Linked DNA regions of Homo sapiens. The protein of the gene in region 3 purifies or fractionates together with the protein of the main gene of each other region. This does not show direct contact. Each region holds a gene or a part of one and is shown on either strand. Other genes may lie near its edges. The genes, in order: JKAMP, ANKRD13C and PTGDR2.

Evidence for each region.
Region 1: the proteins of PTGDR2 (region 3) and JKAMP purify together in Homo sapiens (affinity purification with western blotting, with the first as the bait; one large-scale study listed by BioGRID). This does not show direct contact.
Region 2: the proteins of PTGDR2 (region 3) and ANKRD13C purify together in Homo sapiens (affinity purification with western blotting, with the first as the bait; one study listed by BioGRID). This does not show direct contact.

What each region holds. Positions count from the first base shown.
Region 1 is NC_000014.9:59,490,894-59,494,618, reverse strand, and holds part of JKAMP (JNK1/MAPK8-associated membrane protein), read right to left. Parts: intron 3,059-3,725; exon of another isoform or gene 2,568-3,058; intron 1-2,567. UniProt on the Homo sapiens protein: Regulates the duration of MAPK8 activity in response to various stress stimuli.
Region 2 is NC_000001.11:70,344,605-70,348,329, reverse strand, and holds part of ANKRD13C (ankyrin repeat domain-containing protein 13C), read left to right. Parts: intron 1-3,725. UniProt on the Homo sapiens protein: Acts as a molecular chaperone for G protein-coupled receptors, regulating their biogenesis and exit from the ER.
Region 3 is NC_000011.10:60,853,151-60,857,382, forward strand, and holds the start of PTGDR2 (prostaglandin D2 receptor 2), read right to left. Parts: upstream 2,801-4,232; 5' UTR 2,719-2,800; intron 582-2,718; 5' UTR 573-581; coding exon 1-572.

The DNA.
Region 1 (3,725 bases), on a different chromosome or scaffold from region 3:
GTTCCTCCCCATCCATACCTCTGTCTCTCCCTTAGAGGCAACCATGTACCAAACTGCTTTTACCACTTTTTTCCAGAAAGTTTTTATCCCAACTGTATTTCTGCTTCACAACTATTCTGGTTAGTTTTGCTTATTTTTGAATGATATCACACTAATGGAAGTCTTCTGAGATTTTTTTTCTACTCAAAATTACATTTCCAAGTTTCATCCATGTTATTGCTTATAGCTGAGGTTCAGTCATTTTCGCTATTGTGTTAGGATTCCACTGTGTGACAATACTGTGATTTGTTTATCCATTCTGTGGTTAGTTAAATGTGTTGCAAATGTGTACCTGTTTGTGGGCTCAATTTTCACTTTCTTTGTGAAGCCTTTTTATAAACATGTTCTAAATTTTAATACACCAGGCTTTTATTTTTTTTTCTACTTAGCAGTTTAAATGTTTTAAAAAGTCCTTCCACACCCTGAGATGTGTGTGTATCTCACACACACACACACACCCAAATTTTCTTCTAAAAATTTTAAGGTTTTGCTTTTCACATTTATCTTTAATTCACCTAGAAGAGATTTCTGTGCCTAACGTAAGGTAGGATCTAACTTTACATTTTCCCATTTGAATTGCCAGTTGTCCCAGCAGCAGCATTTTACTGAACAGGTACTCCTTCCCACCCCTACCTTCCCAACTAATTTGCCATGGCACTTCTTTCATATAAAGTTTCATATATAATTGTCTGTGTTTTGGGTCTCTATTCTGTTTCTTGAGTCCATTTATCTATTCCTGAGCCAGAAGAATAATATGATCATAATCCTTGATGTCATGTACATTTTTTCTACTTCTTTGGTGGTCTTGGCTATTCCTGGCCCTTTGCTCTTCCATATAAATTTTAAAATTGGCTTGTCAAGTGCTCAGATAAATCCTATGTAACTTAATGGTCTGAGCTATGTCACAGTACTTGTACTGTACATGGAATATAGGAAATAGTTTCATATATTTATCTTATAGTCAACCTTTTTATTAAACTGTCTTGTTATTTCTAATATCTAGTCTATAGGTGATTTTGAGTTTTCTACTTGAACACTGTTTCCATTATGTATCATTGCATAGCAAACTACCTCAATACTTAGTGGCTTGAAACAAGAACCACTGATCATTTCTCACTATTTTGTGATGTGACTGGGCTCAACTGGGCAGTTCTTTCTGCTCCACATGGTGTCAATTTGGGAAGCACTGGTCTAGAGGCTTGACCATGCTGCAGCATTTAAAAGGACTAACTCACATGGCTGCAGTAAGTGCTGGCTGTTAGCTGGAAGCACAACCAAGGCTGTTAACAGGTGTGCCTTGGTTCTCTTCCATATGGCTTCTCTTTTGTTTTCAGTACTCTGCAGTTTAATTATGATGCATGCAGGTGTGAATTTCTGTTTATTCTGCTTGGGATGTGTTTTCCTTCTGGGATCTGTGAATCGGTTTCTCATTATTTTTGTAAAACCTGAAGCCAGTTATCTCTTAAAATACCAGCTCTCCTTGGCTGGGCGTGGTGGCTCACGCCTGTAATCCCAGCACTTTGGGAGGCCGGGGCGGGTGGATCACGAGGTCAGGAAATCAAGACCATCCTGGCTAACACAGTGAAACCCCGTCTCTACTAAAGATACAAAAAAATTGGCCGGGCGTGGTGGCAGGCGCCTGTAGTCCCAGCTACTCGGGAGGCTGAGGCAGGAGAATGACGTGAACCTGGGAGGCGAAGCTTGCAGTGAGCCGAGGTCGCACCACCGCACTCCAGCCTGGGCAACAGAGCAAGACTCGTCTCAAAAAAAAAAAAAAAAAAATAGCAGCTCTCCTTCATAGTCTCTATTTTTCCAGAGACCCTAATTAGATACTTTGGGCAAAGACTTAACAAAACATTTATGCTGTGCATGAGAATCTGGGCTTCAGGTAACTCTCTAGCTCTTTTCCTCTGGAAGCCTGATAAGGATAGAATGTCAACTATATTGCTAGGCAACACTGCTTATGATACAAATGATCCTTGCCTGGTAAATTATATCTCGACTGGGGAGAACCATAAATGAACTATAAATGCCTGATGGGGATACCATGGTTTGGCTTTCTTGAGTTCAGTGACTCTTATAATTGGCATGTCACTTGCAGGACCCCAGAAGTTCATGGAATTGTTATAAGAGAGACTGGCTTCTGTGAGGTGTAAGACTTTAAGCCTGGACCACTCCCACACCTACCCAACATGGATCTCACCTTCTTGCACCTGATTTTCCATCTCCTTCTTTCTCAGTGCAATATTCCATTATTTCTATGCATTTTTTTCTAGTTCACTAATTCTATCTTCAACTGTTTAATCTGCTGACTACCTTTTTTTTTATTTTGGCAAGTATAAACTTTCATTTCTAAAAGTTTCCTTTTCTTCCCCATCACATGTATTTATTCCTAATAATCTTATTGTTATGGACAGCTTGTGACTACATCCTTACTTTCTTTATAGGTAGCAGTTACATATCCTGTAGGTGAAAGTCCATTATCTGTGTCCTCTCAGAGCATAAATATATTGTTTGTTGCATGTACCAATAAGTCCTAGTGCTATTTTATTTAGTAACCACAGACTATGAGGCCATTACTAGATTTTAATGAGCAAGAGTCTTACAGGGTTAAATTGAGAATGGGGAAGCTTTCCAGCAAAGAGGCTCTGCTACTTTTGTCAGCAGCCATGGCCACTACTACCTTAGGCTTCAGGCCCTTGAGGGTCTAGTCTTAGCAGAGGCTACCCAAGATTCAGTATCCAGATAACACTGCTGCTACCAGCAATTGACCTCAGACAACCCTCTCATCCCAACTGCCTGCCTTGTCACTCTGGCCTAACTCAGGGTGGGCTGGTTTGTGTTTTGAAAGAGAAGAGTTCCTGGAGATCTCTCCATCTCCAGCTGGGACCAGCAATGTCTCACATAGTTTATCTTTCCCAGACTTTAGTTATTTCATGCAGGTGGGTCACTTGGAGCTCCTAATTAACTCACATTGTTGGAAACAGAACTCCTGTGCCATTTTACAAAGATGAAAACACTGAAAACATAAACACACATTCACATTACATAATTTGACATTTTGCTTCCTTATAGAATTAATATTTTCAGAGGCAAAATCCCAACTTCATTATTTCTTGCCATTACTTTGATAACCTTCTTAACTGGTCTTCTTGTCATGTTCTCTTTCAACCTATCTACAGCCAGACACATAATCTTTACAAAATGAAATACAATTTTAGAACTCCTCTCATTAAACTAATTTTGAGTCTTTTTGTCTTTCTGGAAAAATACCCCCACCAGCATCGTCTTCTCTATTTCCTGGCCATGCTAAATGACTTTAAGTTCACTTGTGCCTCCACACATCTGGGCATGCATCACCCTCCACCTCAAACACATTTTACCTATCTGCCAAACCATGCATCCTTCCAGATCAGCTCAGGGGTTATCCCCAGTTTTTATGAACATTTGTTAAGACACCTCCAGCCCCCATCTATCTGGACTGTAAGTGCAAAATTTCAGGAAACTGTAAGAGATGGCCCTTGTGGTCCTTGTTACCAATTTCCTAGGCAAAGCACAGTTGTACAACTCCCTCTTTTTAAACCCACCTCCTTTCCTGTCTGAGCATTAGTCACTCCTCGCCTTCCCTCAAACCACCCTCTAGTCTCTGCTTCAAGTCTCTCCCTCAAAACATAGCTGACGTCTGA
Region 2 (3,725 bases), on a different chromosome or scaffold from region 3:
TCCAGCTTGGGCAACAAGAGCTAAATTCCATCTCAAAAAAAAAAAATGTGCATTTGAGGATTGAGAAGATAGGATAATCTATTTCATGGCCATACAGTATGTTTATTTTGGTTTATTCTGTATAAATCTCGTATCTTCCTTTTGATATTTTTTTCTCTACTTTTAGTCACTAAAACCTTCATGATGGGTGATACAAAAGAATAATATGTAATAGATCTCTTTTAGAAGAGGTGACTATAAAGCTAATCTCTGCATGGAAAAAAAAATTTTAGCTACTGGTGAACAATTTTAACCAGGAGAGGGTTAAAATGATGGCTTGTGTTTAAAAGAACATTAGTAGTTTTATGTTTGTTTGTTTGCTTTGTGTTTTGTAGGTTTCTTTTTAAATTTTGTTTTTGTAGGATAGACCTCAGTTTCCCTTAGGAAGAAAGTGGTGTCTAGAGGCTCAAGTTTATAACACATTAAAGTGTGTTATACCCCTTACCTGGGTGTGGGGGTGATTTGGTGGTGAAATGTTACTCCATTGATCAGGGTTGATTTAGTTGATCTTCATTATTAGATGAATGTCATCTTCCTTCTTTCTTGTCTTTCTTCCCCATGTGCATCTCCAACAGAGTAGGACTGTCCTTGGGTTAAGTGGCTGTGTTTCCTGATGGTGTCACCATTAGTACTATAGAACTTCACCCACTGCTTACAAATGTTGTGATAAGAACACATCTGCAGAGCTATGTCTTAAAAGGGAGGGAGGATCCTCTTCTCCCCTTTTCTGCACTGGGCTGCAATAGGAATAGAAATTCTTAGCTTTGGCAAAAAAGGTAGCAGAAATGGGTGATTATTGGTGATGTTGGGTCCTGGGCATCCTGAATTCTAGAGGACTCATTGGAGAATTGAGTTTTCGGTAGGATAGCTGCCCCAAGTTAATGCCATTCTTAAGTCATAGAAATCTACTTTAATTCAAGAGTACAGTGTAATTATCAGAATGCTTGGGTTCCAGAAAATGAGTGCAGTTCCTAGAGAATTGGATGGGGGCCAGGCAGACAAACAATATGGTTCTGTTCCTACACCATTTATTTTCTTGAGGGAGAGCTGGGTGATCAGTTTTAGAGCAACACTGAAGTATGTAAAATAGGGATAGGAAAAAGGGAAAAGGTCTTTCGCCTTTTCTGTATTGATCAGATCTGAGTTTGAGACCATGCTTCTCTATGAACTGCCTTTTTTTTTTTTTTTTTTTTTTTTTTGAGACGGAGCCTCGCTCTGTCACCAAGGCTGGAGTGCAGTGGCGCGATCTCGGCTCACTGCAAGCTCCGCCTCCCCGGTTCACACCATTCTCCTGCCTCAGCCTCCCGAGTAGCTGGGACTACAGGCGCCCGCCACCACGCCCGGCTAGTTTTTTGTATTTTTTAGTAGAGACGGGGTTTCACCATGTTAGCCAGGATGGTCTCGATCTCCTGACCTCGTGATCCACCCGCCTGGACCTCCCAAAATGCTGGGATTACAGGCGTGAGCCACCGCGCCCGCCCGACACAATTTGATTTTAAAAGGCTCACTCGGGCTGTTGTGTGAGGCAAGGGTCAGTATAAAAAGCTACTATAGTTGGGGGAAACTGTGAGGGTGATAAGAAGATAGAGCTGATAGAAGTTGATGCTGGATTTGATGTCAGATGATATGGTGTGTGTATTTTAGTAGTATATTAGCATTTTTGAGAGAGAATGCAGAAATTATCCCCTTTTACTGCTTGCTTGGATCAGACTTGAAGGAGTCTGTAGAACCTGGAGCTCTGTACTAGTACTTGCAATTTCCTGCTTTGTTCTATAGTTAGGGGGTGCACAAAGTCGCAACTATTTTTATAATATCTAGTCATTGCTTGCCTTTTTCACTGCAGACATTTTCATTGGTGGTTCAAAAGCACTGGTGAGTAAAATTGTTGACATCTTAGTGCAAGTCAAAGTAGCAAACTGGGCTGGTAGTCATTGTATTGTTCACTGCCATGCAAATTAATTTTTAATTTTTAAAAATTAAAACAAGGCCATTTTACTTAATGTTTTTGATGAAACTGTAAAAATTATGAATTTTATTACATCCTAATCTTGAGTACATGCTTTTTTGGTATTTGTGACATAATTGGGATTGTGCCTTTTGCTCCTCTGCTGCATACTGACTGGGTAAATAAGGGAAAGCATTGTTAAACTGAGTGGGGAAGCCAGGCACAGTGGCTCACACCTGTAATCCCAGCACTTTGGGAGGACGAGATGGGAGGATCACTTGAGGTCAGGAGTTCGAGACCACCCTGGTCAACATAGTGAGACCCTGTCTCTATTAAAAAGAAAGAAAAGAAAAATAGAAAAAAAAAGTATTAGAAAAAAGTTTGAGGGGTATTTGAGTGTAAGCTGAGCTAGCCACCTTTTTCATGGAACACCATTTTTACTTTAAAGAACAGTTTACAGACAAACTATAGTTAATCACAGTTTGAATATATGGCAAATATTTTTTGGAAAATAATGAAGTAAACCTATGACTTCAAGGAAAACAAGTGACAGTTATTTGTTGTGAATGAAAAAATTGAAGCTTTCAAATGAAAAGTAGAAATTTGAAGAACTTATCTCTACCATGGTAAGCTTGATGGGTTCCCAGTACATAAAAGACTGTTCTAGTCAGATTGGAGGTGATATTGCCAAATACGGTTTTTTTGCTATTGTACAGTGAAATATGTCAACATTTGAAGATTTCCATAACCTGGTCAACCGGTGTTTTTCAAATATCAATGCATGGTGTTACAGAATCATGCATCAGTACAAGATCCATTCAAAGCACAAGACAGACCAATATATTTCAGTGTAATACAGTACAAAAAACTTATTTATATGATTTTAGATTTCACATTGCAATCTTTTTTTTTTTTTGAGACGGAATATTGCTCTTCTTGCTCAGGCTGGAGTGCAATGGTGCGATTTCGGCTCACCGCAACCTCTGCCTCCTGGGTTCAAGCGATTCTCCTGCTTCAGCCTCCCGAGTAGCTGGGATTTCAGGCATGTACCACCACGCCCGGCTAATTTTGTATTTTTAGTAGAGACGGGGTTTCTCCATATTGGTCAGGCTGGTCTCAAACTCCCTACCTCAGGTGATCTGCTTGCCTCGTCCTCCCAAAGTATTGGGATTACAGGAGTGAGCCACCGCGCCCAGCTGTGCAACCAACTTTTAAGAAGTGAATTTTGGTGTGTAGCAAAGAAAAATATCAGAAAAGGTTATTAAAATACTCCCACTCTTATCAACTGTGAATTTGTGCAAAGCATATATAAAAACCTAGCTGCTGTCTTCTGTTAAGCCAGACATTAAAGAAACATAATTTATTTTTATTTTTAATTAAATAATTTAAATAGACTGCTCATGTCACTTATTTGTTTTGGAAAATGTAGTTAATTTTTTCATAAGAAATTTTATATTAACACGTAGTGAGTATTATAGTTCTAAAATTAATACATTTAAAATTTTAAAAATCTTAATTTCTAATATGATAAATATCAATAGATATATCTATACAAAAGGTTTTGTGATCCTTAATAATTTTTAGAAGTATAAAAGGAGTCCTGAGATTCAAAAGCTTGAAAACTGTTAATACAGTAAAAAGAATATAAATTTTTGTGTCATGAACTGTCCCAGTTTCTAGGTATGTAATTTTGGAAAATAACTATTATTAGGTCTATTTTTCTTCTTGAGAAATAGGAATA
Region 3 (4,232 bases):
GGGTTCAGGAGCAGCACATTGTAGTAGCACATAATGCGCCCGTCCAGCCGCGAGATGGTGTCCCGGAACACGAAATAGGGCACCGTGTTGAGCACCGCTAGTGCCCAAAGCACCAGGCAGACTTTGTGCGCCGCGGCCACGGTGCGGTGGTTCTGCGCCCACACCGGCCGCACCACCTGCAGGCAGCGGTCCAGGCTGATGGCGCTGAGCAGGAAGCCGCTGGCGAACATGTTGAGAAAGAAGATGGAGGAGTGCAGTTTGCAGAAGGTGGTGCCCAGCTCCCACGAGTGGCCCACGGCCAAGAAGTAGGTGAAGAAGGGCAGGGAAGCAGAGGCCAACAGGTCGGACAGCGCCAGGTGCAGCACCCAGGTGGTGACCACGGTCTGGCGCATGCGGCAGCCCACCACGAAGAGGATGACTCCATTCTCCACCAGGCCCAGCAGCGAGGCCAGCCCGTGCAGCAGCACGGCCGCGTGGTCGATGTAGCGGATGCTGGTGTTGCTGTGGCTCTGGAGACGGCTCATCTGCTCCAGGATGGGGCAGAGTGGCTTCAGTGTGGCGTTGGCCGACATCGTGGGGCTCTGCAGTGGAGGGAAGGAGGCGCCTAAGTTGGAAGTGCAGAGGCCACCGGGGAACCAAGAGAGAGGCCCGGAGTGGGACCCTGCCCAGGAGATGCCAATGTGACCCACGAATATATTGGGCGGTGGGGGTGGGGGGAATAATATCCCAGCATTGCTGTGCTTGGGCAAGTCATTTAACCTTCCCGAGCCTTTTTCTGCCTCTGAAACTTGGATGTCAGTCATAACATCACCTAGCTCATAGAGTTATTGGGAGAATTAAGTGAGTTTAATACATAAAAGCATTTAGAACATGGCCTGGCACAGAGCAAGCACTTTATCAGTGTCATTGTGATGATTATGGAGCAAATGGTCTAAGATCACACAGAGAAAAAGGAACAAGGTCAGGCCACACAGGACTCCTTTTTCCCATCCCCAGAGCACTGGCGGGTGAAGGAGGCCCCACAATTAGGGCAAGAGGATTCTGCTGGCCTGGGCGATGGAGATGCTGCCCCTTCCCACAGCATCCACAGCGCCCCCAGATGTTGCCTCTCTACAGATCCTCCATGCAGCTCCCCGCACTCAGTGGTGGCTGGTTAGATGTGCCGACCATAAACAGTGGAACCAGCCCCTCCTCTGATGGTTGGAGAGGAAATAAGATAAGAGCCAGGAGAGCTGGGGAGGAGGAACTCCCACATGGGGCTCTGGAGGCCCAGTGGGGCCAAAAGATCTCTCCCTTCTCAGGAGCAGCCACAGCAGCTCTCTCCGCCCCAGGAAACCCACCCCTGTTCATTCACTTACTCCATCATGCACTCATCCAACAAATAAGACGTGCATGCTTACATCCTCATTGAAAGCCCGAAAGACCATCTGATGTGAGGCTGGTCAAGACCAGTGAGGGCTGAGGAAATTCCATGAGGCTCCATGCAGGAGGTAGGAGGCAAGTAGCAGGGGACAGGGACTCAGGGTGTCCTGGGCACCAATGACACTCCAGGTACTATGGTAGGTCCTTCACATAGGTGCTGTCTTTCTGGCTCTAGAAAAATGGTGCTAGTACTCCATCCTATTTTACAGATGAGAAAACTGAGCCTCAAGTGGTTAAATAACTGGCCCAGAGCCACCCAGACAGCACAAACATGTGGAGGAGAAAGTTTCATGCTCAGCCTGTGCTCTTTCCTCTACCCCTACTCCAAGGAAGAGAGGATGGAGGAGGAGGAAGAAAAGCGGGAGAGGGGAGCAATGGTCTTCAGTACTCATCTTTCTAGGGAAAACACTGTTGGCCAGGATGAGAAAACCCACTCCCTTCCAGAGACCACAGTCCTTTGTAGAGTGGGGTTCTGGAATATCAAACTAGAATTCTGCTGGCGGAGGAGCCCCTTGGAGCTAGAGACCTGCAGGTAGATGGAAGAGGAGCCTGTGCTTCCTGAGAATGGTCATACTTCCTAGGCTTTAGAATGTGCAGAGCAGTTACTCTTGCAATGAACCTATGACACCCCATTTTTCAGAAGAAGAAACAACAACTTGCCCAGCGTTCCTCAGCTGCAACAGTGGGGCTGGGACTTCACTCCCAGCAGATAGCCAAGTACCACCCGCTGTCTGCCCTGAAACATTCCCTGCAGACCAGCTGCTGCTGATCCAAGTCCTATGGGGATGATCAGAGAGCACAGTCCTGCCACACCCTTGGGCACCACCAGATCAGTCCTTCTAACTCTATAGAGACAGCCCCCAGCCTCCCAGGATTCTCAGGAGCCAAGCAGCTAAGGTCCGGCTTTGGCAGGTTAAGAAAAAAAAAAAAAAAAAGGGACAGAGAGTGCAAGCTGTGGGAGTCCAAGACCTGGGTTTGAATCCCAGCTCCTCAGCTTCCTGGCTGCGTGACCTTGGGCCAGTTACTCTAAGCGTGCTGGTGTCATCTTCCCACCCAGACTGCTTGTGAATATTGACAGACAGTTGAGTGGTTTCCCCTCGTATCTGACATCTAGTTAATGCCTAAGAGAAGCTAATCCTTCCCTCCTCTGAGCACCAAGTCCCCTCCAGTCTTTGGTAAACTCAATCTTCTGCCATCCTAGCTGGTAACAGCCCTCTCACCTGGTAAAACTTTGCCTTCTTCTGTGGGTCTAGAGAGGGCACTAGGCTGCCCAACCCCTGGGCCACTCCTCCTTACCTGGGCACAGAGGGAGCACAGGATTCCAGCCCTGGAGGCAGTCAGCTCCTGACAGCAGCTAGACAAGAGGCAGCGGGCAGACAGAGGTGGGAGAGGGAGGCTGAGAGAGGAAATAGCTGTCAGCCCCAGTGCATGTGTGTTTAGGGGTGGGGTTGGGGGAGGCGGGGACAGCTGGAGAGTGAGTTGCCACACAGATGTTCAAATATCATCAATTTCCATCAATGCCGGCAGCCCCTGCTCCACCCATCCCCGCTTCATGAAGGAGACTGCAGAAGTCCAGAGGGCAGTGCAAGTGCACGTGAAAAAATCGATGTGTGCAAGAGAGTGTGAGCCCGAGTGTGACTAGGGGTGTGCTTTTGAGAGTGACCAGTGTGTAGGATAAGTGCGTGAGAAGGAGAATGTCTCATCCATCTGTCCACTGTTCCTGGGCTTCCATCTCCCGACACCAGAATCCTCAGAGAAGAAACCCCTCCAGCTGTTCTGAGTTTCCCAGGCAGTGTGGGGGCCTGTCCATGAGGGACCCGAGGGCTCTAAGGCCAGGAAAGTACAGTGGGGTAGTGGGGGCAGTGGCAAGAACGCAGTCCAAGAGGTCAGTCACTTCTGTTTGCTGAGCCCTGGGGTTGTCATCTGTGAACGGGAGCAGTAACATCGGCCTTACAGGCTGTGGTAAGGGTTGAATGAGATGGATTGCACAAAGCTCGTGGCACACAGTAAGTGCTTATAAAAATCAGCTTCCTTCTCCTCTGAGGGAAAAATGAATATAGGCTCTAAGGCAAAGGTCATATAGCTTTTATTTAAAACAGGCTCAATTTTGGGAGGCCGAGGCGGATGGATCACTTGAGGTCAGGAGTTCAAGACCAGACTGGCCAATGTGGCAAAACCCCTGTCTGTACTAAAAATACAAAACTCAGCCAGGCGTGGTGGCACATGCCTGTAACCCCAGCTACTTGGGAGGCTGAGGCATGAGAATCGCTTAAACCCAGGAGGTGGAGGTTGCATTGAGCCGAGATCACACCACTGCACTCCAACCTGGGTGACAGAGTAAAAACTCCATCTCAAAAAAAAAAAAATGGAAATTTAAACTAAAAAACAAAAACAAACAAACAAAAAAACACACAGGCTCAAAGCCCTAGGATAAGAGAAGTTTGCATTTCATTGTTCCCTAACTCCTTACTCTCATTTGCTGACCAAGCTTCCTGGGGTCAGGACCATCCCTTCAACCTCAGCATCTCAGCACCTAATGGATACTCATTAAAACATTTTAAGAACTCAATATCCCTGTATCGAGGCAAAGGCACCTCCCATGAGATGGACAGCACAAGCATCTTCCATTTAGGCCTAGTCTTAACGCAGAGACTAATGCATAATACGCTCTTGCTGAGAGGCTACCATCATGAGTGGAAAATGAGTAAAATGCTATGCCCTTGTGATGGGGATAATACATCTCACTGTAGCCCAATATGGCAGATCAGTAAGAGCCTTGGTGATCCAAATCATTAACAATAGGAAAATGT